Homo sapiens: one gene and its partner. The protein of the gene in region 1 interacts with the protein of each later gene in a pairwise test. Each region holds a gene or a part of one and is shown in the gene's direction. Other genes may lie near its edges. The genes, in order: LTK and MTMR14.

Region 1 (14,972 bases):
TTTTTATTAGAAGCGGTGTTTTGCCATGTTGCCCAGGGTGGTCTCAGACTCCTAAGCTCAGGCAATCCGCCCACCTCAGCCTCCTAAAGTGCTGGGATTATAAGTGTGAGCCACAGCATGTGGCCCCAATAGGTTTTATTAAGCAACTACTGTATCAGCAAATACCAATGATTCTCAAACTTTGTGACAAAAATCATCTGGAGGATATTTTAAAACAGATCACTGGGTCCTACCACCAGAAGCTGCTGATTCAGTACATCTGGGGTGAAACCCAAGAATCTGCATTTCTAACAAGTTCCCAGGTAATACTGATGCTGATGTTCAGAACAAACCACACAACCACAATTTGAAGAGCAGTGGCTTAAAGAGACTTTGCAAGGTAAATTCTGTGATCTCATAGTGTGATATCTAGTGTTAAGTAGGGCATAGAGACCAGGGTTTTTTTGTTTTTTGTTTTTTTTGAGATGGAGTCTCACTCTGTCACCCAGGCTGGAGTGTAGTGGTGCAATCTCGGCTCACTGCAACCTCTGCCTTCCAGGTTCAAGCAATTCTCTGCCTCAGCCTCCCAAGTAGCTGGGATTACAGGCACCTGCCACCACGCACGGCTAATTTTTGTATTTTTAGTAGAGACGGGGTTTCACCATCTTAGCCAGGCTGGTCTTGAACTCCTGACCTTGTGATCCACCCCACCCCCACCGTCCCCTTGGCCTCCCAAAGTGCTGGGATTACAGGTGTAAGCCACCACGCCTGGCTGAGACCAGACTTTTTACAAAATCACTGTTCTGTTTACACCTTGAATTATACTCAGACTTTACCAAGTAGCTAACTACTATAACTTCTCTTTTGAAGTATTTTGTATTAAACATAGGTCTCAGACTTTCAAGTTAGGATTTTTTTTTTTTTTTTTTTTTTGAGATGGGGCTTTGCTCTTGTTGCCCAGGCTGGAGTGCAATGGTGCGATCTCGTCTCTGCAACCTCTGCCTCCCAGGTTCAAGCCATTCTCCTGCCTCAGCCTCCAGAGTAGCTGGGATTACAGGCGTGCGCTACCACGTGTGTCTGATTTTGTATTTTTAGTAGAGACGGGATTTTGCCATGATGGTCTAGCTAGTCTCGAACTCCTGACCTCAGGTGATCTGCCCGCCTCAGCCTCCCAAAGTGCTAGGATTACAGGCATGAACCACCGCACCCGGCAAATGATCATTTAAGCAAATGATCGAAGACTCAAGACACAAAACTACCTGAAGGGAGTGGCTCCCACATTTGTAGGGTACCTTACAGAGCAATTTCCCTTCATATGATTTTGCAGGTGGTGGGGAAACTCTCAGGGCAGTTGTGGCCTGTGCTACATCACCCATTGACCAGAGGTGCCAGTACTAGTGCTCAAGATCAATCGATCGATCGGTCTACCTACCTATCATCTATTGACCTTCAGTGCTACTAAAAACACTCGGATCTTCTAACGTCTGGTCCAGTCTTTCACCCCATCACAGTGAGAGGCTGTGCACAGGGGTAACACAGGCAACGGAATTATATGAGGCAAACACAGAGATCCAGGTTTCTGGGAGTAGCAATGAGGTTCAGCCTTGCAGTCACAAAGGCACCACTAAAAGGCACAAGTAATGGCAGGTAATGAGGCCTTACTTGGAGCAGTTTAGAGTACTTCCCACGTGTGGTGACGCATGCCACACACTCACCACCACCACCACTGCCACAAATGAAGTGCACACTCCACTGCTCCTGTCCTCAGGAACCTGGAAGCCCCCACCTGGTGTCCGAGGTGTGGCTCCCACTTTAAGCGTGGGGCACCTCCTCTCCGGCCTCAAACCTACCGGAGCTCCCAGCAGGCTGCGGCACATCTGACGGCTGGAAACTAGAACCCCTGGGTGGGGACTCCTTAAGGCTCCTCCCGGAAGCGTAGGGACCTCGCTGCCCACACGCCCCTCCCTTTCCTCCTCTGGCGTCCTGGGGTCTGAGGTGGGCGTGGCCAGACCAGCTTTAGGTCCGGGGAGTGTCTCGCCAGCGGCAGCACACCCCTGTAAGTGGTGGCCAGGGCTGCCGTGGCAAAATGAGCTGTCAACTTTAGGTTGACAGGGGTGTGGCCGCGACCGCAAGGGCTTTTGTTGCCGGGTGGACCCAACAGGGATGGGCTGCTGGGGACAGCTGCTGGTGTGGTTCGGAGCCGCGGGTAAGTGCTATCTGGCGGTCAGGGGACCGTCCAGCCTGAGGCACTTTCCTAGGCTTGGGGGTGGCCGGTCAACAGGCCAGGTGTCAGTGGTTCCTCCAGAGGCCTCGAACTCTCACAGCCAAATTTCTCCGGTCCGTGCTTCTGGAGTGCGGGCCGAGAAGCGCCAAGTGCGTGCGAATCCCAGAGTCTGGATCACGCAGCTTGGGAAGGAGGAACATTCTTTGGGGTCTCAGCACCGCCTTGGGGCGGGGCCACCAATCTAAGTTGAGGAAAGCATTGGGGAGGCTGCAGGACCAAATTCATTGCGGCCCCTAAGTTATTCACTGGGAAAGGCGCTCGAGGAGAGAAACTGGCAGACCTATCAGCGCGCACCCGCGGGGCTTCTGCGACCGGAGTCGGGTAGTGGCTTCCAGGCTGAGAGCGCGGCTGGGCCGGGTGACGGGTGTGGCCGCGACCGCAAGGGCAGCTGTTGCGGGGTTCTCTCTTTCTTTCATATCCTATTTCCACCCGCCTTAACGTCCTGCGCCTTCTCCCAACACCTTTCAGGCGCCATTCTCTGCTCTAGCCCGGGGTCCCAGGAGACTTTTCTGCGGTCCTCGCCCCTGCCGCTGGCAAGTCCCAGCCCCCGGGACCCGAAAGTCAGCGCCCCGCCTAGTATCTTGGAGCCAGCCTCCCCGCTGAATTCTCCGGGTGAGCTTTAGACGCCTCCTTCCTCTTTCGCTCACCATACCAGACCCCTCTGGCCCAGCCAGGGGCTCGACGACCCTTGCCTCGCTCCTTGCTCTCAGGCACCGAGGGGTCTTGGCTGTTTTCTACCTGCGGGGCCAGCGGCCGGCATGGGCCCACACAGACACAATGTGACGGGGCGTACGCGGGGACCAGCGTGGTGGTGACCGTGGGGGCCGCCGGGCAGCTGAGAGGCGTGCAGCTGTGGCGCGTGCCGGGCCCTGGCCAGTATCTGTAAGTGCACGGCGGAGGTAGGGTGGACAGTGACCTGCTAGTTGGAGGTTTCACCCTCAGGGTAACGAAGTCCACGTGCGCACCGACTTGCGTCTTGGACTATTCCGCGGGGAGGTCCACCTTGAGTGCCCTTCAAGGTGGCAGTAGTCGCCACCGAGTTAGCCCTTACCCGGAACCTCTTACACCGAGCGGAAGGCCCCCAACCAGGGCGGCGCCAAGGGGTGCTTGAGCCTCCCCACATTTCCACGAACCCTCCTGAAATAAGTGTAATATCTGATTTTTCGGTGTGCAAACCTACCCTTCCCATCCCGTCAGAGTCGATTGCAGCCTCCAAGTCCCTCAGATAAAAAATAATTCTGGAGCCTCCTCTGTCGCCAACTTCTGCCCGGAGCGGCCGGCCTGAGCACCGAAGGCCGGGGACTCACCGTCCGTTCCCCGCAGGATCTCAGCCTACGGAGCCGCGGGCGGCAAAGGCGCCAAGAACCACCTGTCGCGGGCGCATGGCGTCTTCGTCTCAGCAATCTTCTCCCTCGGTCTCGGGGAGTCGCTGTACATCCTGGTGGGGCAGCAGGGAGAGGACGCCTGTCCCGGAGTGAGCGCAGCCAGTGGGGATGGGGCGGCGCCGGCGCCGGGGGCGAGGGCTGCCTGGGGGCCGGGGGAGCGTGCTTTCCTCGGTGCCGGGTCACCAGCACAGCGAGGGGAGGCTCCCGGGCCCCGCCGATTCCCTCCCCCGCTGCCCGCAGGGTAGCCCGGAGAGCCAGCTCGTCTGCCTCGGGGAGTCTCGAGCCGTTGAAGAGCACGCGGCGATGGATGGGAGCGAAGGGGTCCCGGGGTCGCGGCGCTGGGCGGGAGGTGGCGGGGGTGGCGGGGGCGCCACCTACGTTTTCCGGGTACGTGCTCCCTTCGGCGCTCAGCGTTGGGGTCCCAATCCTCTCCCCAGGGGCGCTCACGCACCGGCTCTCCGTCCGTCCCTTGGGGTCCCCCTATCCCTGCGCTGGGCTGGGCTGGCCTGGGCTGGGCTGGGGGCCCCTGCCCTTATCCAGGCCCCCTGGGCGGGAGCCCTCTCCCAGTGGCAGTGCCCCTGGACAGCTGGAGGGCGCTTCCTGGAACACGCCGCTGGCCCCACAGGTGCGCGCTGGCGAGCTGGAACCGTTGCTGGTGGCGGCCGGAGGCGGCGGTCGGGCCTACCTGAGGCCGCGGGACCGAGGCCGGACTCAGGCCTCCCCCGAGAAACTGGAGAACCGCTCGGAGGCGCCCGGGAGCGGCGGGAGAGGCGGGGCGGCAGGTGAGGGCGCGGGCCGCGGGGAGAGGCGGGCGTGCTCCCCGTGTGGCTGCCAACCTTCCTGCTGTCGCTCTGCAGGTGGTGGGGGCGGCTGGACGTCGCGGGCTCCCTCTCCGCAGGCCGGCCGCTCACTGCAGGAGGGGGCGGAGGGCGGCCAGGGCTGCTCCGAGGCTTGGGCGACCCTTGGCTGGGCCGCGGCCGGCGGCTTCGGGGGCGGCGGCGGGGCCTGCACTGCGGGCGGAGGCGGCGGCGGCTACAGGGGTAGGTGCACCGTTGGAGAGGGCAGCTGAGCAGGCCCGAGGGTGAGGTGATGTTAGAACCTAAGTACAGGCCGGAGCCCTCGGGAGGATAGGTGTGGGAGAGGCATTAAGCCCTGCTCAGCAGCTCCAAACAAAAAGCAGGAGCTCTTAGAAAAGGAGGTCAAATACACTGCAAATCAGCATGCAGACAGGACTCCCTAGATTTCCGTTTAATCCAGGATCTTTCCCATCACAGCAGGTCCCTGCCTTGTTCTGCAGCAGTCTTCAGAACTTAGAGCTGGCCGAGTGAGCAAGCTGAGCAAAGGGGCAGAAAGGCAGGATTGGGTTAAGTCAGTGGTTCTCAAAGTGTGGTCCAGGAACAGGTAATATCCCCACAACCTAAGTTGTTCGAAATGCACATTATCAGCTGGGCCTGGTGGCTCACGCCTGTAATTCTAGCACTCTGGGAGGCCAAGGCAGGTGGATCACCTGAGGTCACCAGTTCGAGACCAGTCTGGCCAACCTGTGAAACCCTGTCTGTACTAAAAATACAAAAATTAGCCGGGCGTGGTGGCGGGAGCCTGTAATCCCAGCTACTCTGGAGGCTGAGGCAGGAGAATTGCTTGAACCTGGGAGGCGGAGGTTGCAGTGAGCCGAGATCACTCCATTGCACTTCAGCCTGGGCGACAAGAGGGAAATTCTGTCTCAAAGATTAAAAAAAAAACAATGGAAATTATCCTGGGAGTTGGGGGAAGGTTGGGGAGATGCTGGTCAAAACAATGCAAAATGGCAGTTAAATAGGAGGAATACCTTCCAGAATCTACTGTACTACATGGTGACTGTAGTTAATGACGATGTATTCTTGAAAATCGCTAAGAGAGGCGGGGCGCGGTGGCTCACGCCTGTAATCTCAACACTTTGGGCGGCGGAGGCGGGTGGATCTTGAGGTCAGGAGTTTGAGGCCAGCCTGGCCAATATGGTGAAACCCCCATCTGTACTAAAAATACAAAAATTAGCCGGGCGTGGTGGCATATGCCTGTAGTCCCAGCTACTCGGGAAGCTGAGACAGGAAAATCGCTTGAACCCGGGAGGCGGAGGTTGCAGTGAGCCAAGATCGTGCCACTGCACTCCAGCCTGGGTGACAGAGCAAGACTCTGTCTCAAAAAAAAAGAAAAGAAAATTGGTAAGAGCGTAGATTATAGGTGTTCTTACCACAGAAAATAAGCATGTGAGGTGGTGTATATATTGGTTTGCATTAGCCATTGCACAGTGTGTACATATTTCAAAACATCATGCTGTATACAATAAATATATGAATTTTTTTTTTAGATGGAGTCTGGCTCTGTTGCCCAGGCTGGAGTGCAGTAGTACAAATCTCAGCTCACTGCAACCTCCGCCTCCCGGGTTCAAGCAATTCTCCTGCCTCAGCCTCCTGAGTAGCTGGGATTATAGGCATGCGCCACCATGCCCGGCTAATTTTTGTATTTTTAGTAGAGATGGGGTTTCACCATGTTGGTCAGGCTAGTCTCGGACTCCTGACCTCGTAATCCGCCCATGTCGGCCTCCCAAAGTGCTGGGATTACAGGCGTGAGCCACCACACCTGGCCCTGAATTTTTATTTTTAATTAAAAATTAATTTTTAAAAAGAAATGCGAATTCTCAGCCCTTCTCTAACATACTGAATCAGAAACTGTAAGGGAGAGTCCCAGTCATCTGTGTTTTGATCAAATAACTAGTGTAAATGCCTTTGTGCCTGTCTGGGCTGTACTGCTCATACATACACACATGATCTACATTCTCACAGAAAGGGACTGTGAGGACATGGGACAGGAGGGGCTCAGGCAGGCAGGAGGCATCCCAGCCAGCCTCAGCGAGGCCTTCAGGCTCCAGCTGATTACCCCCTCCTCACCTCCTTCACTCCCACTTGTGAACAGACAGCATTTGCATCATGATGCTGGAGAAGAGAGGGCCACACTGGGATTTCCACCGGGAGATTCCAGCTTCTCCCCCATCCCCCATTTTTGTAGTCAAACTCTCCATCACTCTCCACTTCCAGGGGGCGACGCTTCAGAGACTGACAACCTCTGGGCTGATGGGGAAGATGGAGTATCCTTCATACACCCCAGCAGCGAGCTCTTCCTGCAGCCTCTGGCAGGTATTGGCCCCAACCCCACCTCTGAGCCTGGCCTGGACTTCTTCCGCAGTCCCTGAGCCCACTCCTGCACTGCACTGAAGAGCCACCTGCACTGTGAATAACCTTGCATAGCACAGGATTCTTGCATAGCATAGGGTCATTTGAAAAGTGGGCTGTCATCATGCCATTGCACTCCAGCCTGGGCGACAAGAGCAAAACTCTGTCTTAAAAAAAAGGAAAGTGGGCTGCCAGTCGTGCTGGATGGCAATGCAGGGCATGCTGCGTGCTTTTCAAGTACCCCCTTGCTATGAATTCGCTTCAAATACCTGGGAGTGTGCAGGCTTGACAGAAGTCCCCCAGCTTCTCTCACCACCCTTGTAAGCTTGGTGCTGCTCTTTGCTCTAAAGTCCTGGGCTAGAATTAACCATGTGGCTGGAAAAGGCATGTATTTATTTATTTATTTATTTATTTATTTATTTATTTATTTTTATTTTTGAGACAGAGTCTCGCTCTGTCACCCAGGCTGGAGTGCAGTGGTGCGATCTTGGGTCACTGCAACCTCCGCCTCCCGGGTTCAAGTGATTCTGCAGCCTCAGTGCTGGAGTAGCTGGGATTGCAGGCGTGCGCCACCACACCCGGCTAATTTTGTATTTTTAGTAGAGGCGGGGTTGGCCAGGCTGGTCTTGAACTTCTGACCTCCGGTGATCCGCTCACCACGGCCTCCCAAAGTGCAATGATTATAGGCGTGTGCCACTGTACCCAGCCAAAGGCATGTATTTACTATATCCCAGCCCTACCACACCATATCATATCAGTTCTTTTACTCACAGTCACCGAGAACCACGGAGAGGTAGAGATCCGAAGGCACCTCAACTGCAGTCACTGCCCTTTGAGAGACTGCCAATGGCAGGCAGAGCTCCAGCTGGCTGAATGCCTGTGCCCAGAAGGCATGGAGCTAGCTGTGGATAACGTCACCTGCATGGGTATGTCCTACCTTTGCCCAAGGTCTGGACTCCTGGGGTCACAGACTGGGAGGAGCAGTAGGCCACTGGGAAAGATGGTATAGAGATTTGCTGTGTGCCAGGCCCTGTGGTGGGTGCTGGGCAGGGGATTGGAGATTCATCGGTGCACAGTGCCTTTCAGAGGCCTGTCGTCCAGTGTGGGAGGATGTTTAGATATAGCTATGTAAATGTATATCTCAAGTGACGATTGTTGTGGGAGGTATAAAGTGCTTTAGGGGTGTTCAAGAGGGAGAGGTTGCTTTTGCCCAGGATAATGGGGGAAGGCATCATGGAAAAATTAACACTTGAGCTGAGTCTTGAAGCGTGGGTAAAACTTGAGGGTAAAGGAACAGAGAAGACCTTCCCACTGGAGGTGTCTCTCTTTCTCCCTAGACCTGCACAAGCCCCCAGGCCCTCTGGTTCTGATGGTGGCTGTGGTGGCAACCTCAACACTGAGCCTCCTTATGGTGTGTGGGGTCCTGATTCTGGGTACGAAGCGTCTAGCAGGCACAGTTGATTCAAGGCTGCTCCTCTCCAGTGAGCTGGGATGGGTTTCTGCGGGGTCCCGGGGCTGACTTCAAGACCACTCACCGCAGCAGAGCCGTGGTAGACTCCTCTGGGATTCTAAGATAGGAAGGAGCTGGGGAGGCCTGGGGAAAACGTTTACCTTAATGAGCATCTGGAGGGGTGTCCTGGGCAGGTGGGGGAGGGAGAGTTGATGGGCAGGTGGAGGGTGTGCCGTTATTCTTCCCACCCCCAGTGAAGCAGAAGAAGTGGCAGGGCCTGCAGGAGATGAGGCTGCCGAGCCCTGAGCTTGAGCTGAGCAAGCTTCGAACCTCTGCCATCAGGACAGCCCCCAATCCCTATTATTGCCAGGTGGGGCTTGGCCCGGCCCAGTCCTGGCCTCTGCCACCAGGTGTCACCGAGGTTTCCCCAGCCAATGTTACTCTGCTCAGGTAAGTCTTCTGCCTCCTTCTGAGAACCTATGCACTCTGAATCCCCACCTCTGATTCTCTCCCTGCTGTAGTGAATTATAAGTCCCAGAAAAAATCTGGCCCACATCCCTTGTGTAAGGGAGAGGGAGGCCCTGAGAAGCTCCAGAAGGGGAAGTAACTTGCTCAATGTCACCTCTCCGTCCCAGTTCTTAGAATATGATCTCTCAGCTGGGCGTGGTGGCTCACACCTGTAATCCCAGAACTTTGGGAGGTCGAGGCAGGCAGGTCACCTGAGGTCGGGAGTTCGAGACCAGCCTGACCAACATGGAGAAACCCCATCTCTACTAAAAATACAAAATTAGCTGGGCATGGTGGCGCATGCCTGTAATCCCAGCTACGTGGGAGGCTGAGGCAGAAGAATCACTTGAACCTGGGAGGCGGAGGTTGTGGTGAGCCGAGATTGCGCCATTGCACTCCAGCCAGGGCGACAGAGTGAGACTCTGTCTCAATAAAAAAAAAATATGATCTGGCGCCTGTAATCTCAGCACTTTGGGAGGCCAAGGCAGGTGGATCACCTGAGGTCAGGGGTTCGAGACCAGCCTGGCCAACATGGTGAAACCCTGTGTCTACTAAAAACACAAAAAATAGCTGGGCGTTGTGGCGCTTGCCTGTAGTCCCAGCTACTCGGGAGACTGAGGCAGGAGAATCACTTGAACCCGAGAGGCAGAGGTTGCAGTGAGCCGAGATCGCGCTATTGCACTCCAGCCTGCATGACAGAGTGAGACTTCGTTTAAAAAAGAAAAAAAATCATGACTCTTGGAGCCCAGGGATTGCCTCCCGCCCAGGGCGTCTGCAGGGACCAGGGAAGTCCTCATCATGCACTCCCACCTTGACTCTGGCCCGCATCTGCCCTCTTTTTTGCCCTGGCTCTATGCCAGTGAGCACCACCCTTGCAGGGCTTCTACCTGGGGACATGCCATGGTATGGAGAGAGTCTATATAGGGTCAGCTGGGCATATGGCAGGGGCAGGGGAGGTAAAGGGGGTACTAGACTCTCTAGGACTCTTCTCCAGGCCGCCTGCCCACTCCCTTCCAACGTGTCTTCCTGCAGAGCCCTGGGCCATGGTGCCTTTGGGGAGGTGTATGAGGGACTGGTAATTGGCCTTCCTGGGGACTCCAGTCCCCTGCAGGTAGCTATCAAGGTGAGAGGAGTGGGACTTCTGGCTGGGGGTAGGAGAGCGGAACACCCTGAAGGGAAGGACAATGACTAGAGCTAGGGTTAACCCCCTCTCCTGAAGCGTGCAGGGCAGCTCAGAAACTGTGCCCTTTTCCTCCCCAGACCCTGCCAGAACTCTGCTCGCCTCAGGATGAGCTGGATTTCCTCATGGAGGCCCTCATCATCAGGTGCACCTGGGACCAGGGGCAGGGCTGGAAGGCGGGAGGGGAATGCCCGGGAACAGTTTCTCTTCACCCTGAGGCTGAGGTAGCAAGTCAGGGGACACAGAGGGCCTCTCCAGCTTTGTGGAGCCTAAAACATGGTTTCCGTCTCCCTCCTGGTAACGGGATATGTCCCCCACCCCACTCAGCAAGTTTCGCCATCAGAACATTGTGCGGTGTGTGGGGCTCAGCCTCAGGGCCACCCCTCGCCTCATTCTGCTGGAACTGATGTCTGGAGGGGACATGAAGAGTTTCCTGAGGCACAGTCGGCCACACCTGGTGAGACCCTTGTCTTAGCCCCCCCAGGCCCCTCTAAAGACCCTGTCCATGTGTCTGAGACCTACATGGACTGATGCCCCCTCTGCCTGACCCAGGGCCAGCCATCACCTCTGGTCATGCGGGACCTGCTGCAACTGGCCCAGGACATAGCCCAGGGCTGCCACTACCTGGAGGAAAATCACTTCATCCACAGGTTAGGAGCAGTCCTGGCTCAGGGGACCCCCATCCCAACTCCCTCCCCAAGGAACAGCCCTTCCACACAGCTTTTAAGGAAATAGATCAGGAAGAGCAAGAACTTCTAGATTCTGGCAGTGATTTTTTTTGCCTACTCTGTAGGGATATTGCCGCCCGGAACTGCCTGCTGAGCTGCGCTGGACCCAGCCGAGTGGCCAAGATTGGGGACTTTGGGATGGCACGAGATATCTACCGGTGCGGGACTTGGGAGGTGGGAAGGCTCTTGCTCCAAGGGGGTTTTCCCCGCACCTTGGTGGTGAACAACTCATCATTCACCTCCTCCCTCCTGTAGGGCCAGTTATTACCGCAGGGGGGACCGGGCCTTGCTCCCAGTCAAGTGGATGCCCCCAGAGGCCTTCCTGGAGGGCATCTTCACATCCAAGACAGATTCCTGGTGATAACACCCTTCCCCTCCCCTTCCCCACTGTTCCCCTCCCCTGAGGCTAATCCTGTCCTTTCCAGCCACCTCATGTGAGGGGAGGCTACACCTGACGGGCCTCACTTGGTTCCCCCACTTGTGATGCAGGTCTTTTGGGGTGCTGCTCTGGGAGATCTTCTCACTGGGCTACATGCCCTATCCTGGGCGCACCAACCAGGAGGTGCTGGACTTCGTCGTTGGAGGAGGCCGGATGGACCCTCCTAGGGGCTGCCCAGGGCCTGTGTGAGTTGAGTGCTGCCCGGGAAGGGAGGTCCTTCACAACCATGGGTGGGCATGAACTCCTGCCTCTCCCCAGGTACCGCATCATGACCCAGTGTTGGCAGCACGAGCCTGAGCTCCGCCCTAGCTTTGCCAGCATCTTGGAGCGTCTGCAGTACTGCACTCAGGTGTGCCCCCGACCTAATCTAACATCCTGGTCTTGTGGGTCAGGAGGGAGGGCCAGAAAACTCTATGCCCCCCTGCTCCCTGACTCTTCCATTACAGGACCCGGATGTGCTGAATTCACTCCTGCCAATGGAGCTGGGGCCCACCCCAGAGGAGGAAGGGACTTCTGGGCTGGGGAACAGATCTTTGGAGTGCCTAAGACCCCCACAGCCCCAGGAACTGAGTCCAGAGAAGTTGAAAAGCTGGGGAGGTAGCCCTCTTGGCCCCTGGCTGTCCTCTGGCCTCAAGCCCCTCAAATCCAGGGGCCTCCAACCTCAGAACCTTTGGAATCCCACTTATCGCTCCTGAGCCCCAAGGGGCCCTGAGGGTAAGGACTGAGGCACTGAGGGTCCCTCCCTATACTCCTCAGGCTCCTGGGTGGCCTGTTATGCCAGCGGCCTCTGTTCCCTGCAGTCTGTGCTGTGTGTCTGGGCCTGTCTCGGGGCTGGCCTGGCAGCGCTGCACTTGCCATGCTGGAAACCAGCCCAGGCCTCCCAGGGAAGGGCCCAGCCACTTCCAGCTTTTGATCTTGGGGCCAGAGGCCGCCTTACACACACCCCAGGTGTCCATGGGGAGCACTGGATTGCTCTCCCATTATGAGCATCCTTCATCTGGGCAGACCCCCCACCCTGCAGATGCTTCTAATAAAAAGCTCTTCTCATCCTCCAGCGATCTGTGGATGCCAGGGACCGGAACTGAGGAAGAGGGGGCCGGAGGAGGGAGGGGCTGAGGCCTGAGGCACAGGAAGCTGCATCTTGTCTTTGAGTTTTATTAGGAAGGGGAGTCCGTCGTGGTGTGAGACGTTAGACCGGAAGGTCTGGGCTTGCTAAATAAAATCCGCGGTCTGGCACCTCTGGAGAGGGCAGAGCCTCCTCAGAAGAGCTGGCCTGAGGAAGAAGCCCTTTGCCCCCTCCCCTTCTATAAGTTAGTGTCATTTGGCTCTGGGAACGCTGGGGCCCGGGTGGGCAAAACCCCTGGCATCGGCGGTGCCCCCCCTTAGTGGCTGGCACCTGGTCCTGCAGGACCCGGTGAACTGCCCTGCACCGCGGGGCTCCAGTCTCAAGCCGGCATGCACAGTGGGGACAAAGCTGCAGGTCCACATGTCAGGTGAGCGGCCCGCGGGGACAGGAGTCCAGCCTCATCTCTCAGCCAGGCTGGCCAGGATGCCAATGAGATTGTCCAGCCCCAGCAAATAGCCGTCCTCGCGGTTGCCCTCCTCCCAGGGCCGCCGGTGGTCCAGGATCTGGCCATCGGGGAGGGGCGTGGTCTTGCCGAAGTCGATGAGCCACACGCCGGCGCGATGGCAGTGATCGTGCACAAAGAGGAGCGAGCTGCCGATCACCTGCGAGCCCCGCACCGTCAGGCCGCGGCCCTGCCCAGAGACGCCCTTGCCGGGTTCCCGCCCTAGCCCTCGCGGCCCGGGCACCCGGGCAGCCGCCGCTTACCTCGTGCCTCCTGAAGAACTCGGATACCTCCAGGGTGTCCCGGATCTGCTGCAGGCGGTTCAGATACCGCCTCTGCAGAGGGTGGGGTGGGAGAGGAGGGCAAATTAACTAAACGCCAAATGAGCCCCTGCTAACGATGAGGAGCCGGGACCCACGCTGTGCTTGGCAAATGCCGCCAGGAGGAGGACCCAGGGCCCCGCCCAGCGTGGCCCAGAAGGGAAGGAGCGTAGAGCAGTTGCGAGCCAGCGCGGTGAGGGCCATGGTGGGGACACAGCCGAGGGCACTGGGCCAGATGACAGGGGCAGTCCTCGGCTTCAGGCTCCCCAACACCTCAGGGTTTGGGATCCCGCTCTCACCAGCACTTCCTCATCTCCTTGCACAAACTCTTCAAAGACGCGAAGCACCTGCTCTCGGCTTCGCGTAGTCTTGAAGTCGGTGCTGCAGGAGCCGTCCGCTTTCTGGATGTGGGACAGGAGTGTCAGGGGCCCCGGGCCCGCCAGTGGGGAAGAGGACAGCGTAGAGCAGCGGTACCTCCCAGTTGCAGGGGACGGCGAGGCGGTGGGAGAGGGCGGAGGGGCAGGCGGGGCGGGAGCGGGGGATCGGGAAAGACAGCGCGCAGTGGGGCTGCGGCGGTGCCAGCGAAGCGCGCCTGCCTCACCTTGATGCCCTCGATGCGGAAGCCGAGGGTGGTGCTGGAGCTGATGCCTTCCCGCCACTGCATGTAGCGCGGCTTGGTGACGGCGCGCTGCGCGTGCTCCTCCTCCGTGGGAGCTTCAGGATCCACCGCCAGCATTTTCTTGTACATGTCCTTCCGCAGCTTGGGCCGCTCACGGGCCTTGGTCAGCTCCTCCTCTAGGTAAGTCCTGTGGGGGCGCAGGCAGCGGCCAGGGCATGAGGGGGCGCACACGGAGACCCCTTCGAGCACTCGCCCCGGGTCCCCCTCAAGCAGCTGTCCCGGCCCCGGACCCCTACTTGATCCCCCCAACCGACCTGGCAGGGCACGCATACCTGACGCCCATTTTGCAGTCGAGCACACAAGGTCCGTCGAAGCCATCGAGCAGGTCCTGCAGCTGCAGGTAGCTTTCGCCGTCGCGCTCCACCACGCCGTGGAAGGCAGGCACGCAGCCGCGCAGCGCGTCAGCCATCAGCCGCGCCAGGCAGTAGCGCTCCGGCTCCGAGCAGCGCTTCAGGATCAGCCCGCTGGTGCCCGCCGCCTTAAAACTCCCTGAGGACCGGCATCCGTCAGCGCCGCCCAGCCCCTTCCCGTCGCGGGCACCCGCCCACCCGCCCCACTGCTCACCAGTGTGCCCTGCCAGCTGCACCCAGGCGTAGCGCTTCTTGAAAGGGCTTATGACCGGCAGATTGACCATGGTCCGGATCTTCTGCCAGTGGTTTTTCTGAAAGCGACAGGGTCAAGGTCTGATAATCGGCGTCTCGGCAATGCATAAGCCCTCCCTCCACTGAAACAGGGTCTCGCCACGCCCCCGACCCACCGGAAGCAGCTGGGGCTGGATGAGTCATTAATTCATTCATTCACTCTGGGAAGGTTTATTTGTGCGCCTGTGTGGCGGGTGCTGATACAGGCGCAGTGAAGGTGATTCCAGCGTCTCCAGTGAGCTGTCAAGAGCCTGGACTTAGCATCTGAAGCCCCCGGTTTGCGCTCCAGCTCTGCCACTGAAGAACGCGTGGGCAGGTTACGAAAATGCTCTGTCGAGGTTTTTGAACTGTTGTGAACATCGGAATTACCTGATGGTCACCCTTGTTAAAAATTGCAGATTATCAGGCCTACCGCAGGGATGTTCTAAGTTGGTCTAGAGTAGGGCCATTTTTTTTTTTTTTTTTTTTTTTTTTCAGATGGAGTCTTGCTCTGTCACCCAGGCTGGAGTGCAGTGGCGCGATCTGGCCTCACTGCAACCTCTACCTCCCGGGTTCAGGCGGTTCTCTTGTTTCAGCCTCCCGAGTAGCTGAGACTACAGGTGC
Region 2 (15,097 bases), on another chromosome or scaffold:
ACACAGAGGCTGCTGTGCGGGAGAACATAGTTTTATTATTACTCAAATCAGCTCCCTAAGCATTCTGGGATCAGAGTGTTTAAGGACAACTTGGTAGGTGGGGAAAACCAGTGAGCCAGGAGCGCTGATTGGTCAGGTCAGAGATGAACTCATAGGGAGTCTTCTTGTGCTGAGTAATTTCCTGGGTGGGGGCCACAAGGTCAGATAAGCTAGTTTATCGATCTGGGTGGTACCAGCTGATCCATCAAGTGCAGGGTCTGCAAAGTATCTCAAACACTGGTCTTAGGTTTACAATAGTGATATCCCCAGGAGCAATTTGGGGAAGGTCAGAGTCTTGTAGCCTCCAGCTGCATCACTCCTAAACCATAACTTCTAATCTTAGGGCTAATTTATTAAGTCCTACAATGGCAGTCTAGTCCCCAGGCAAGAAGGGGGTTTGTTTCAGGAAAGGGCTGTTATCATCTTTGTTTTAAACTATAAACTATAAACTAAGTTCCTCCCAAAGTTAGTTCAGCCTATGCCCAGGAGTGAATAAGGCCAGCTTAGAGGTTAAAAGCAAGATGGGGGGCAAGGACTTCATGACTAAAACACCAAAAGCAATGGCAGCAAAAGCCAACATAGACAAATGGGATCTAATTAAACTAAAGAGCTTCTCCACAGCAAAATAAACTATCATCAGAGTGAACAGGCAACCTAGAGAATGGGAGAAAAGTTGTGCAATCTATCCATCTGACAAAGGGCTAATATCCAGAATCTACAAAGAACTTAAACAAATTTACAAGAAAAAAACAAACAACCCCATCAAAAAGTGGGCAAAGGAGATGAACAGACACTTCTCAAAAGAAAACATTTATGCAGCCAACAGACATGAAAAAATGCTCATCATCACTGGCCATCAGAGAAATGCAAATTGAAACCACCATGAGATACCATCTCACGTCAGTTAGAATGGCGGTCATTAAAAAGTCAGGAAACAACGGATGCTGGAGAGAATGTGGAGAAATAGGAATGCTTTTACACTGTTGGTGGGAGTGTAAATTAGTTCAACCACTGTAGAAGACAGTGTGGCGATCCCTCAAGGATCTAGAACTAGAAATACCATTTGACCCAGCAATCACATTACTGGGTATATACCCAAAGGATTATAAATCATGCTACTATGAAGACACATGCACATGTATGTTTATTAAGGCACTATTCACAATAGCAAAGACTTGGAACCAACCCAAATGTCCATCAATAATAGACTGGATAAAGAAAATGTGGCACATATACACCATTAAATTCTATGCAGCCATTAAAAAGGATGAGTTAATGTTCTTTGCAGGGACATGGATGAAGCTGGAAACCATCATTTTCAGCAAAATATCACAAGGACAGAAAACCAACACTGCATGTTCTCACTCATAAGTGGGAGCTGAACAATGAGAACACATGGACACAGGAAGGGGAACATCACACACTGGGGCCTGTTGTGGGGTGGGTGGCTGGGAAAGGGATAGCATTAGGAGAAATACCTAATGTAAATGACGAGTTGATGGGTGCAGCAAAACAACATGGCACTTGTATACCTATGTAACAAACCTGCATGTTGTGCACATGTACCCTAGATCTTAGAGTGTAATAATAAAAAAATTAAAAAAAAAAAAAAAGAAGCAAGATGGAGTTGGTTAGGTCAAATCTCTTTCACTGTCTGTTACAATTTTGTAACGGCGATTTCAAAAGAACTCATGTCCAGAATATTCAAACCTCTTCTATAAATTTGTAATAAAAATACAGACAACCCACTAGAAAAATGGGCAAAAGATGTTAACAAGCACTACCCAAGAGCATATTCAAATGAGCAATAAATATGCGAAAAGGTGATCAACTTCATTAATCAGGGAAATGCAAATTAAAACCAAAATTAGCTACGCTTAAAGAAGCTAGACACAGAATACACAGGGTATAATTCCATTTATAGGAAGGCTAGTGACAGAAAATAAATCAGTTGTTGCCTGGGGCTGGGGGTAGGGGTGGAAAGGACTGAGATGGGACTCAAGGGAACTTTCTGGAGGTGATATATATGTTCAACATCTTAATTACACTGGTGATTTTATAATTTGGCAATGCCCATCAAAATGTACAATTAAAGAGGATTAATTTTATTCTATGTACTCATACCTCAATAAAATTGATTTTTTAAAAGCACAATAGAGCTGGGCACATAGTCTAAAAGCACAAGTAGAGCAGTGGCTCATACTTGTAACCCTAGCACTTTGGGAGGCTGAGGTGGGAGGTTCACTTGAGCCCAGGAGTTCAAGATCAGACTGGGCAACATAGCAAGACCTTGTCTCTACAGATAATTAAAAAATTAGTTGGGTGCGGTGGCACATGTCTGTGGTTCCAGCTACTCAGGAAGCTCAGGTGGGAGAATTGCTTGGGCCCAGGGGTGAAGGCTGCAGTGAGCCGTGATCAAACCACTGCACTCCAGCCTGGGGGAGAGAGCAAGCCCCTGTCTCAACAACAACAACAACAACAACAACAACAACAACGAAAGCACAATAAGATACCACTACATTCTTCCAAAGTATAAACTAGTATGAGGAAAAAAACAAAAGAAATACCAGTACATTCTCACCAGAAAAACTAAAATAAAAAAAAGTATTGACAAGGATGCAGAGCAACTGGAACTCTGCTGACTTGCAGGAGGCAATGTAAATGTCACGGGAAAACTCTTAGAAAGTTACACTTTGACCATTGTCAAAAGACAGAATTGCAACTTAAACATCTTAATTGGCTTTATTTTTATTTTATTTTATTATTTTTTTTGAGTTGGAGTCTCCTTCTGTCACCCAGACCGGAGTGCAGTGGCATGATCTCTGCTCACTGCAACCTCTGCCTCCTGGGTTCAAGTGATTCTCCTGCCTCAGCCTCCCGAGTAGCTGGGATTACAGGCATTCGCCACCATGCCCGGCTAATTTTTTTTTGAGACAAAGTCTCGCTCTTGTCCCCCAGGCTGGAGTGCAATGGCGTGATCTCAGCTCACTGCAACCTCTGCCTCCCAGGTTCAAGGGATTTTCCTGCCTCGGTCCCACAGGTAGCTGGGATTACAGGTGCCTGCCACCACGCCCAGCTAATATTTATATTTTTAGTAGAGACGGGGTTTCACCATGTTGGGCAGGCTGGTCTAGAACTCCTGACCTCAGGTGATCCAACCATCTTGGCCTCCCAAAGTGCTGGGATTACAGGCGTGAGCCACTGCGCCCGGCCTAATTTTGTATTTTTAGTAGAGATGGGGTTTCTCCACATCGGTCAGGCTGGTCTTGAACTCCCGACCTCAGGTGATCCGCCCGCATCCGCCTCCCTAAGTGCTGGGATTACGGGTGTGAGCCATTGCGTTTATAAACAGATAAGGGCTGAAGAAAGCACAAACAACACAAAGTGGATTGGTCATTTCTTTTTTTTTTTTTTTTTTGAGACGGAGTCTTGCTTTGTCACCCACGCTGGAGTGCAGTGGCGCCATCCTAGCTCACTGCAAGCTCCACCTCCGGGGTTCACGCCATTCTCCTGCCTCCGCCTTCCGAGTAGCTGGGACTACAGGCGCCCGCCACCACACCCAGCTGTTTTTTTGTATTTTTTTTTTTTTAGTAGAGATGGTGTTTCACCATGTTAGCCAGGATGGTCTTGATCTCCTGACCTCGTGATCCGCCCGCCTCGGCCTTCCAAAGTGCTGGGATTACAAGCGTGAGCCACCACGCCCGGCCGGATTGGTCATTTCAAAGTAACTTTCCCTGTAGGGCAGGAACAAGGAAACAGAACAATAGAAAAATAACGGATTGGGCCAGACGCCGTGGCTCATGCCTGTAATCCTACCACTTTGGGAGGCTGAGGTGGGTGGATCATCTGAGGTCAGGAGTTTGAGACCAGTCTGGTCAACATGGCGAAACCCCGTCTCTGCTAAAAATACAAAAAAATTAGCCGGGTGTGTTGGCGCACACCTGTAATCCCAGCTACTCTGGAAACTGAGACAGGAGAATTGCTCGAACCCGGGAGGTAGAGGTTACAGTGAGCCGAGATGGCACCACTGCACCACTGCACTCCAGCCTGGGTGACAGAACAGCGGGAACTCGTCTCAAAAAAAAAGAAGAAGAAGAAGAAGAAAAATAATGGATTGATTAACATCAGGTTACTTTTGTTGTAAGGATTAAGGGCAGAGGAAAGTTCATTATCATGCTTATTGAAAGTGGCCTGTTTGGGGAATATCTATTATCTCTCTGGATTTCTCTGAAGGTCAGATAATTTAGTTTCAGCTTGGTAAGATGTAAGTTTAGTAGGAATTACTCCATTTTGGTTCTTAGTCTTGTTTGTTAGGATCTAGTGCGGGTGCTTTGTCCAAAATAATGGCCTATAATTTTTTTCTTTTTTTTTTTTTTTTTTAAGGCAGAGTCTCAAGAGTCTCGCTCTGTCACCCAGACTGGAGTACAGTTTCATGATCACAGCTCATTGCAGCCTCAACCTCCCTGGCTCAAGGGATCCTCTCCCACCTCAGCCTCCCAAGTAGCCTCTCAATGTGCGCCACCACACCTGGTTGATTTTCTTGTAGAGATGGGGGTCTCACCGTGTTGCCCAGGCTCGTCTCGAACTCCTGGGCTCAGGTAATCAGTTTACCTTGGCCTTCCAAAGTGCTGGGATTACAGGCATGAGCCACCATGCCCGGCCTGTAATTTTTCTTTAACACCATATAATCCAGTCATTTCATTCCTTGGTGTTTAAGACAAATGCGTATATAGATTTGTCAGAAAATATCTAGTAGGCCAGGAGTAGTGGCTCAAACCTGTAATCCCAGCACTTTGGGTGGCAGACGTGGGAGGATTGCTTGAGCCCAGGAGTTTGAGACTCGCCTGGACAACATGGTGAGACTCGGTATCTACAAAAAAATTTAAAAAGTAGCTGGGTGTGGTGGCACATGCCTGTAGTCACAGCTACTTGGGAGGCTGAGGCAGGAGGATTGCTTGAGGCCAGTAGTTGGAGGCTGCAGTGAGCCACGATCATGCCACTGTACTCCAGCTTAGGCAACAAGAGTGAAACCGTTTCTAAAAAAAAAAAAAAAAAAAAAATTAAATTAAATTAAAAACCAATCTACCGTATTAAAACTCTAGAAGCCAGGATAGTGATTAACTGGGGGTGGGAGGAGTTGGGGGGGCAGGGTGGTGGGTGGTTGTTGGTGAGTGGGTAGTGACTGAAAGTGGTCAGGAGGAGGGTTCCGGGGCGCTGGTGTACATATCATACTTCTATTAAAAGTTTAACAAAAACGAATTACTTTCATTCAGACTGGGTATTAGACCACATTAAGGAATATTGTTAATTTTCTTAGGCATGTTAATAGCCTTATATTTTTTATGTATTTTTTTTTTGAAGTACAAATCTGTTGTGATAAATGCTTAAGTATTCACAGCTGAAATAATGTGATGTCTGGGATTTGCTTTAAAATAATTCCCTGGATGGGAAGGGACTGCTTAAACAGGATAGATAAGCAGATGTTGATTATTGTTCAAAACCAGTTAATGGGTACATGAGGGTTCATTATACTATTGTCTCCACTTTTGCGAATGTCTGAAATATTCTAATAATAATAATAATGAGAGGCTTCTCATCACAGAATTTCAAGGCAGTCGCTTCACCTCCCTGACTCCCAGTTTCTACCTCAATAAAATAGGGCTGATGATATAATGCACTGTACTCACAGGGATGTTGTGAGCAGCAGGGGGAGAAAGGGTTTTATGAAATGTTGTGTTTTTGTTTTTGTTTTAGAGACGGAGTCTCATTCTGTCACCCAGGCTGGAGTGCAGTGGCGCGATCTCGGCTCACTCTCCGCCTCCCGGGTTCAAGCAATTCTCCTGCCTCAGCCTCCCGAGTAGCTGGGATTACAGGCACCTGCCACCACGCGCGGCTAATTTTTGTATTTTTAGTAGAGACGGGGTTTCACTGCGTTGATCAGGCTGGTCTCGAATGCCTCACTTCATAATCCGCCTGCCTCGGCCTACCAAAGTGCTGGGATTACAGGCGTGAGACACCGCGGCCGGCTGAAATGTTTTAATATTGGTAACCACTGCCATTATGGTTTCTAGTACTAATTTGTTGCCTCCAAGCGTTCTCTCCTCCTCGCCCTGTAATTTTTTTTTTTTCTTAAGACAGAGTATTGCTCTGTCACCCAGGCTGGAGTGTAGTGGTTCGATTTCGGCTCATTGCAACCTCAGCCTCATGGGTTCAAGCGATTCTCCTGCCTCAGCCTCCCAAGTAGTTGGGATTACAGGTGGGTGTCACCATGCCCGGCTAATTTTTTTATTTTTAGTAGAGATGCGGTTTCACCATTTTGGCAGCCTGGTCTCGAACTCTTGGCCTCAAGTGATCCGCCCGCCTCGGCCCCCCAAAGTGCTGGGATGACAGGTGTGAGCCACCACGCTCGGCTTCCCTGTAATTGTTGATTCCACTTTTCCTCTGGTTCTTTTCAATGGTTCCTTCCTGCTACCCCCCTCCCCCGGCAGCCCAATGGTTGAGCCCGGCTTCCCCGGGGGAAACCCCTTGGGGCGGATCACGCGGTATCAGCCAGTGGCCTCCCTGGTGGATAGAAGGATCGCTCTGCGCCGGGGGCGGGCCAGTAATCGTAGGCGGGGCGCGGGTCCAGAGCTCCGATTGGCCAGAGTCGGAGTAAACATCCGGCGGGACGGGGCGGGGCCGGAAGTGGAAGTGGAAGTAGAAGGCGGTGGCTGAGGCGGTTCCGGAGGTTCTAGTGTCGGAGTTGGGTGCAGGCAGGTGCCATGGGCCCGCTTGAGGCACACTGAGGGGACGCGGGGCTGGGCCATGGCCGGCGCTCGGGCCGCCGCCGCCGCTGCCTCGGCGGGGTCCTCGGCCTCTTCAGGCAACCAGCCGCCTCAGGAGCTGGGGCTTGGGGAGCTGCTGGAGGAGTTCTCCCGGACTCAGTACCGGGCCAAGGATGGCAGCGGGACCGGCGGCTCTAAGGTGAGATTGGAGGTGCGATGAGCTGGGGAAGGCTCCTAACTTGGGAAGTTACAGAGGAAAGGCTGAGGCCAGGGGTCAGAAAAAGGTAGGAGTGGTACCTCGCCGCTGAGGAAGAGGAGAGAGAGAGAGGAGTTCTCCAGGGTCTGTATCCGGAGTATAAGAGTCGGTCTTGACAACCATAAAAGGAGGAACTGGGGTCAGAATGAGCCCAGCAAAGAGGTCCTTCTTGTTTGAGAAGGGGTCTGGAGGTGAGAGATCAAGCTGAGGGGCCAGGTTCAAAGATCAGAGAGGAGGACCTAAGGAAGGTCTATTCCCTGCTTCAGGTGCCGTAGGATGAGTTGTGTCAGGGAAAAAGCCCCAAGAAAAAGCTAAGAAAAATAGGGAGACGATTCCTCGGGGTCAGAGGTCAGAATGGAGCCAGGAGGTGAACCCAGTGTGCTGCCCCCTTATAAGGTCTCAGCATGACTTAGGCCCATCCCTTTCCTTCCCCTATAGAGCAGGAAGACAACCCACACTCCCTTTCAGTTCCTTTATCTAAAGCAGGTCTCCGTTCCTCTTTTTGCTCCCTTTGGGATTTCCACCCAGTCGTCTTATCGCCAGACCTGGAGGGCTTCCTGTCAGCTCAGGCCATCCCCACCCTAAGCACTGGCTGGCAGTGCGGTGGGAATCTTGCCGACCCTGCCATCTCATTCCCCCACGTGGTTTTGGCAGCTTTAGCACCAAGTTTTCCAGTGGAATTCTGTTCCATCCTGCACCACAGAACTCTGATTTGACCTCAGAGATTACCGTGAGTTGCTATTCTGTAGTTGGCATCTTGTAGTCTCTGAAGTAACCCAGGGAAGACTTCAGTAAGGATTGGACTTCCTCACTCTCCAAATGGCCAAGTAATTTTTCCAAGTATAGTCTGGGGACCACCTGTTTAATGATCATCTGGGGTACTTTTAAAATTTGTGCTTATGGGATACTTTGTGAAAACAGAGATTCCTTAGTCCCACCCAGTCCTACCAAGTCAGAATTTCTGGGGGTGGGATCCTGGAATTTGCTTTTTTTTTTTTTTTCTTTTGAGAAGGAGTCTCGCTTTGTCGCCTAGGCTGGAGTGCAGTGGCGCAATCTCAGCTTACTGCATCCTCCGCCTCCCCAGTTCAAGCAATTCTCCCTGCCTCAACTTCCCAAGTAGCTGGGATTACAGGACCCCACCACCACGCCCAGCTAATTATTGTAGTTTTTAGTAGAGATGGAGTTTCCCCAGGTTGGCCAGGCTGGTCTTGAACTCCTGAGCTCAGGTGATCCGCCTACCTCAGCCTCCCAAAGTGCTGGGATACAGGCGTGAGCCACCGCGCCTGGCTTTTTTGTTTGTTTGTTTTTGTTTTTTGTGTTGAGACAGGGTCTCGCTCTGCTGCCCAGGCTGGATTGCAGTGGTGCAACCATGACTTACTGCAGCCTCGAAATCCTGGGTTTGAGCGATCCTCCCACTTAAGCCTGCCAAGCACCTGGGACCACAGGTACACACCACCATGCCTGGCTAATTTTTCTTTATTTTCCTAGAGACATGGTCTCGCTATATTGCCCTGGCTGGTCTCAAACTCCTAAGCTCAAGCAATCCTCCCACCTCAGCCCCCCAAAATGCTGGGATTACAGGCGTGAGCCGCCACACCTGGCCAGTAAGGGTCTTTTGAGTGGCTGTAGGTCATTGGTTTTTCTGGACCCCTCTTCCAACTTACATGACCCTGAAGATTAGGGTTAGCATAAGTTACACCTCATATTGGCTGCGGCTGGCCTTAATTATCTCTCCAGGCCTTCTGATCTCCTGCAAACTTAGATGTATATATATTTATATGTATTTATAACAATTCAGGCAGAACAGGGAGTTAGATCTGTAACTGAACAATCGATTGAGATAACTCACTACCTTTGGACTAACTTCTTGCAAACTTTTTTTTTCAGAAGGAGTCTCCCTCTGTCACCCAGGCTGGAGTGCAGTGGTGCGATCTTGGCTCGCTGCAACTTCCACCTCCTGGATTCAAGCGATCCTCCTGCTTCAGCCTCCCTAGTAGCTGGGACTACAGGCATGCACCATCATGCCTGGCTAATTTTTTTTTTTTTTTTTGAGATGGCGTCTCACTCTGTCGCCCAGGCTGGAATGCAATGGCGTGATCTCGGCTCACTGCAACCTCCGCCTCCTGGGTTCAAGCGATTCTCCTGCTTCAGCCTCCCCAGTAGGTGGGAGTACAGGCGCCCGCCACCATGCCCAGCTAATTTTTATATTTTTAATAGAGATGGGGTTTCACCATGTTGGCCAGGATTATCTCAATCTCTTGAACTCGTGATCTGCCCGCCTTGGCCTCCCAAACTGCTGGGATTACAGGCATGAGCCACTGCACCCAGCCTAATTTTTGTATTTTTAGTAGAGAAAGGGTTTCACCTGTTGGCCAGGCTGGTCTCAAGCTCCTGATCAGAAGTGATCTGCCCTCCTCGGTGCCTCCCAAAGTGCTGGGATTATAGGCGTGAGCCACCATGCCTGGCCCTCTTGCAAACTTCTTGATGTTACAGTTCTTATGCCTTTTTTCTGTTGTGTTTTTCTCTGAACTGTGATCAAAATAAGTAATTTTAGGGGGAGCTGTTTCTTCTATTTCACCAGCAAGTTGTGTATAAAGAGACTTTGCAGCTTTTACTGGTTGCATGGAATAGAGCTTGTAGGTACTAGTCTATGGCTAAAGAATGGGGAAGAGGGCCAGTACACTGGCTCACGCGTGTAATCCTAGCACTTTGGGAGGCCAAGGCAGGTAGACTGCTTCAGCCCAGGAGTTCGAGAGCAGCCTGGAAACATGAACCCCATCTCTATTAAAAATTTTTTGTTGGCTGGGCGTGGTGGCTCACCCAGGAGGCAGAGGTTGCAGTGAGCAGAGATCACACCATTGCACTCTAGCCTGGGTGACAGAGCAAGACTCTTTCTCAAAAAAAAAAAAAAGGAATGGGGAAGAGGCCAGGCATGGTGGCTCACACCTGGGAGGCTGAGGCGGGCGGATCACTTGAGATCAGGAGTTCAAGACCAGCCTGGCCAGCATGGTGAAACCCCATCTCTACTAAAAATATGAAAATTAGCCAAATATGCTCACTTGAACCCAGGAGGCTGAGGTTGCAGTGAGCTGAGATCGTGCCACTGCACTCCAGCTTGGATGACAGAGTGAGACTGTGTCTTTTAAAAAAATAAAGGCCGGGTGCCGTGGCTCACGCCTGTAATCCCAGCACTTGGGGAGGCCGAGGTGGGCGGGTCACCTGAGGTCAGGAGTTTGAAACTAGCCTGGCCAACATGGTGAAACCCCTGTCTCTACTAAAAATAGAAAAATTAGTCAGGCGTGGTTCTACGCACCTGTAATCCCAGCTACTCGGGGTGAGACAGGAGAATCGCTTGAACCCCGGACGCGGAGGCTGCAGTGAGCTGAGATTGCCCCACTGCACTGCAGCCTGGGCGACAGAGCGAGACTCCGTCTCAAAAAATAAATAAGAGAATGGGGAAGCTGACCAATGAAGGTAGTGGATTAGTGGCAGTTTCAGTAACCTGGACCAAGAGTTCTTATGTTTTATGGGTTGTAGACCTCTTTGAATCTAATGAAAGCTGTAATCGTCTCCCCCAAATGCTCAATACCCACAATTTCAGATTCATTGTTAGGGGTTTAAGAATCCTTCCTGAAGTATACAATATATGGGTTAATGGACTACACGTAGGACCTGTGGCCTAGCATCACATCTTCCCAGCACAGAATAATTATCACCCAGGTACATGTCTTTCCCAGTGACCTCTTAGGCCATGGACCTCCTAATTCTCACCCTCAGAACCCCAGAATTCTCTTTGTGTTCTGGTCTCCTTCTCTGTGCAGGTTGAGCGCATTGAGAAGAGATGTCTGGAGCTGTTTGGCCGAGACTACTGTTTCAGCGTGATTCCAAACACGAATGGGGATATCTGTGGCCACTATCCCCGGCACATCGTGTTCCTGGAGTATGAGAGTTCTGAGAAGGAGAAAGACACGTGAGCATCATGTGACCGTAGTGTACATGTCTGGGGAGTCCGTGGCAGCTAATCCCTGTGGCCAGGAAGTCTGTAGCTGGGCAGGGCAGAATCACTTTCCCCAGGTGTTAATCCTTATTGGCATTTTTATTTACTTCAAGGTTGGACAAGTCAGACTGGCAAGGTGGCATGGCATAGAATGAGGGGTTGGGAGTAACAGCCCTTGATTGCTGTTTCACTTCCACCCTAGAGCTCATTGTCCTAAGATAGCTGACTTCACACTTCACTTCTCTGAATATCAGTGTCCCTTTTTTAGAGAGTGTGAGTGGGAGGTACACTGTGTAAAGACAGGCTTACCAGCGTTTACCGTATGTAGCACTTGAGAGCCTAAGGTCTAGAGTCAGACTGCTAGAGTCAGACTGTCTAGAGTTCACATCCTGGATTCCCCTGTTGCTGGCTGTGTAACTGATGCTGGGCAAGTTACTTAACTGCTTTGTCCTTAGTTTTCTTATTGGTAATTCTCTACCTCATGTTAATTAGTCCTTTTAAGGACTAACTAAAATTTTAGAAAGTGGTAGTGCAGTCCAGATGATAAATGGGGCTGATAAAAGCCTGACATGTACGTTGTAAGAATTAGAAATAAAAGCTACCATTTATGGTGGGCCTACCAAGACCTGAGTACCTTATGTGGGTTAACAGTTTATACCAGAGCAGACACAGAATGCTTGGTGCAGGTTGTGGCCTGTAGGTAGTCAGTAAATGGTATAGTTATTTGATACTGATAAGTAATCACAGCATGAGGCTCTAGGAAGTGGTATATGTTGATCTCAAAGTTTGCTCTCCTAATCTCCCTACTTCCTGCTGATTTTAAGGGAATTTCAGGAGCCGTTGTCAGCACTATCTGTGAAATCCTGGCCCCGTGGGTGAAATGTTGTGAGGAGTACCGCAGCAGTCATGCTGCATAGTGCAGTAGCCCCTTGCTACTCAAAGCAGGGCTAGCAGTGCATTCAATAACTTGTTAGAAACGCAGAAGCTCATGCTCCAGAGCCACTGAGCCAGAATCACAGCAGAACAGGGTGTCCAGGTGATTCGAATGCACTACCAGGTTTGAGAAGTGCTGCCGTAGGCCAACTGGGGAAATGGTTAATTCTGCCTTGTGTTTATGTGCCTGGGAAGAACTGGAATTGGAAGGATGAGCAGGAGTTTCCCTGAAAATGTCCTTAGGGATCAACTCATATAGGATCTTGATCATCAGGCCAGGGAGTGTGAACCTGTGGGTTGTGTGTGGGTATCAGTGGTTTTATTGTGCTAGGAACCCCTAAGCACTTACTAAGATTATGGATTCTCGGCCTGGCCTAGTGGCTCATGCCTGTAATCCCAGCCTCCTTTGGGTGGATCACCTGAGGTCAGGAGTTTGAGACCAGCCTGGCCAACATGGTGAAACCCCATCCCTACTAAAATTACAAAAACTAGCTGGGCGTGGTGGTGGGCTCCTGTAATCCCAGCTACTCGGGTGGCTGAGGCAGGAGAATCGCTTGAACCCAGGAGGTGGAGGTTGCAGTGAGCCGAGATTGCACCACTGCACTCCAGCCTGGGCAACAGAGCAAGAGCAAGACTCTATCTCAAAAAAAAGATGACAGATTCTAGAACCTCTCCTGGGCCTTCTGGAATCAGAATTTCCAGTCTACATTCTGTGAGAGCTCCCTTGATGTCTTTTTTTTTTTTTTTTTTTTGAGACAGAGTGCTCTGTCACCCAGGCTGGAGTGCAGTGGCACGATCTTGGCTCACTGCAACCTCTGCCTCCCGGGTTCAAGCAATTCTCCTGCCTCAGCCTCCTGAGTAGCTGGGATTACAGGCGCCCGCCACCACGCCCAGCTACTTTTTTTGTATTTTTAGTAGAGACAGGGTTTCACCACGTTGGTCAGGCTGGTCTCGAACCCCTGACCTCATGATCCAGCCGCCTCGGCCTCCCTAAGTGCTGGGATTATAGGTGTGAGCCAGCACACCCGGCCTCTTGATGTCTTAAATACACTATAGCTTGAGAACCGCTGCTGCAGGCCATGGGGAGCCAGAGAAGGTTTACAGCAGAGGAACAATCCAGTAGGAGGAGTTTAAGCACTAAGCCTTAGTTTCCTCATCTGTAAAGTGGGGATGTCTATAAGAGTGCCCATCTTGGCCGGGCGTGCTGGCTCACACCTGTAATCCCAGCACTTTGAGAGTCCAAGATCATGAGGTCAGGAGATTGAGACCATCCTGGCCAACATGGTGAAACCCCGTATCTACTAAATATACAAAAATTAGCTGGGTGTGGTGGCGCACGCCTGTAATCCCAGCTACTCGGGAGGCTGAGGCAGGAGAATCACTTGAACCCAGGAGGCGGAGACTGCACTGAGCCAAGATCGAACCACTGCATTCCAGCCTGGCGACAGGGTGAGACTCCATCTCAAAAAAATAAAAAAAAAAGAGTGCCCATTTCACAAGGTTGTAGTGGGGTTCTCCAAGAAAAGAGTGTTAAGGGCTCTTGTAAATAGATCACAGAAACAGTATTACATCCTCAGTTATATAACCTAAGAACTTGGGATCGCCAAGCCTAAAGAATTGGGGTTTGTTATGGCCCTGTTATTTATGGTTCTTAGCTCTTCCTTAATTCCTCCTTCCAGAATTAGGTAAGCTTAGTTTCTTTTTTTTTTTAAGACAGAATCTTGCTCTGTTGCCCAGGCTGGAGTGCAGTGGTGCCATCTTGGCTCACTGTAACCTCTGCCTCCCAGGCTCTAGCGATCCTTGTGCATCAGCCTCCCAAGTAGCTGGAATTACAGGTGTGTGGCACCACACCTGGCTAGTTCTTGAATTTTAGTAGAGATGGGTTTTGCCATGATGGCCAGGCTAGTCTCAACTCCTGGGCTCAAACAATCCGCCTGCCATGGCCTCCCAAAGTGCTGGATTACAGGTGTGAGCCACCGCGCCCAGCTGGGTAAACTTAGTTTCCGTAAATCTTTAAGCTAAAGTTTCTGAACAAGAGGGTTTTGTTTTGTTTTGTTTTCTTTGTTTTTGCCTTGCCATTCTCTTCGTTCCCCTTCTTCCTACCCTCTTTGGTGCTGGCTGGCTGGTGGTTTTACCTCTGTGCCCTGATGATGACATTCTGATATTAAGCTCAGCTGTAATCAAGGTGGGTTTTTTTGTTTTTGTTTTTGTTTTTAATTAAGACGGGGTCTGGAATGCAGTGGCACAATCATGGCTTGCTGCGGCCTTGATCCCCTGGGCTCAAGTGATTCTCCCACCTCAGCCTCCCAAGTAGCTGGGAATATGGGCACATACCACCACTCCCAGCTGATTTTTTTTAATTTTTAGTAGAGACCAGGTCTCGCTGCATTGCCCAGGTGGGTCTCCTGAGCTCAACAGATTTCCTCACCTCGGCCTTTCAAAGTGTTGGGATTAGAGGTGAGAGCCACCGCACCCAACAGAGTGGTTCTTTTCTATGTTGATTTTATGAGTGAATCAACTGGGGATCTTTCTACAATGCAGAGATTCAGAAGACCTGAGGTGGGCCTGCGATTTGGCATATTCTAACAAGCTCTCAGGTAATACCAAATGTTACCCTTCAGTAACATAATAGTACATTGAGAAACGTAGTGGTGGTTGCCTTGTAAAAGCTTTTCCTGGAAGGAAACAAGTTTAGTGTTGATCCCTTAAAGAGACTGAAACTAGTATTTGTTGAGTACCTCTGTTTGGCAGGTGTTGAGGTTTTACTTGCTAGCTTAAGCCCTACAACTATTCAGTGAAGAAGACAGTATCACCACTCTTTTTTTTTTTCAATTTGATATGGAGTCTTGCTGTGTCGCTGAGGCTGGAGTGCAGTGGCGCAAGTGATCTTGGCTCACTGCAACCTCTGCCGCTCAGGTTCAAGTGATTCTCCTGCCTCAGCCTCCCTAGTAGCTGGGATTACAGGCGCGTGCCACCATGCCCGGCCAATTTTTGTATTTTTAGTAAAGACGGGGTTTCAACATCTTGGCCAGGCTGGTCTTGAACTCCTGACCTCGTGATCCACTGGTCTCGGCCTCCCAAAGTGCTGGGATTACAGGTATGAGCCAC

The links.
Region 2: the proteins of LTK (region 1) and MTMR14 interact in a two-hybrid assay, tested with the Homo sapiens proteins (one study listed by BioGRID and IntAct).

Annotation. Positions count from the first base shown.
Region 1 is NC_000015.10:41,500,880-41,515,851, reverse strand, and holds LTK (leukocyte tyrosine kinase receptor isoform 1 precursor), read left to right. Parts: upstream 1-2,024; 5' UTR 2,025-2,142; coding exon 2,143-2,185; intron 2,186-2,731; coding exon 2,732-2,875; intron 2,876-2,973; coding exon 2,974-3,145; intron 3,146-3,586; coding exon 3,587-3,737; intron 3,738-3,888; coding exon 3,889-4,035; intron 4,036-4,273; coding exon 4,274-4,430; intron 4,431-4,443; exon of another isoform or gene 4,444-4,505; coding exon 4,506-4,688; intron 4,689-6,722; coding exon 6,723-6,821; intron 6,822-7,615; coding exon of another isoform or gene 7,616-7,630; coding exon 7,631-7,783; intron 7,784-8,194; coding exon 8,195-8,290; coding exon of another isoform or gene 8,291-8,338; intron 8,339-8,388; exon of another isoform or gene 8,389-8,407; intron 8,408-8,561; coding exon 8,562-8,757; intron 8,758-9,846; coding exon 9,847-9,937; intron 9,938-10,074; coding exon 10,075-10,139; intron 10,140-10,321; coding exon 10,322-10,451; intron 10,452-10,546; coding exon 10,547-10,644; intron 10,645-10,787; coding exon 10,788-10,880; intron 10,881-10,977; coding exon 10,978-11,079; and 8 more. Other genes in the region: ITPKA (inositol-trisphosphate 3-kinase A), read right to left, coding at 12,686-12,889, 12,993-13,064, 13,349-13,450, 13,651-13,855, 14,001-14,217, 14,293-14,389. UniProt on the Homo sapiens protein: Receptor with a tyrosine-protein kinase activity. Following activation by ALKAL1 or ALKAL2 ligands at the cell surface, transduces an extracellular signal into an intracellular response.
Region 2 is NC_000003.12:9,642,741-9,657,837, forward strand, and holds the start of MTMR14 (phosphatidylinositol-3,5-bisphosphate 3-phosphatase MTMR14), read left to right. Parts: upstream 1-6,764; 5' UTR 6,765-6,843; coding exon 6,844-7,002; intron 7,003-7,587; coding exon of another isoform or gene 7,588-7,789; intron 7,790-10,880; coding exon 10,881-11,029; intron 11,030-15,097. UniProt on the Homo sapiens protein: Lipid phosphatase that specifically dephosphorylates the D-3 position of phosphatidylinositol 3-phosphate and phosphatidylinositol 3,5-bisphosphate, generating phosphatidylinositol and phosphatidylinositol 5-phosphate.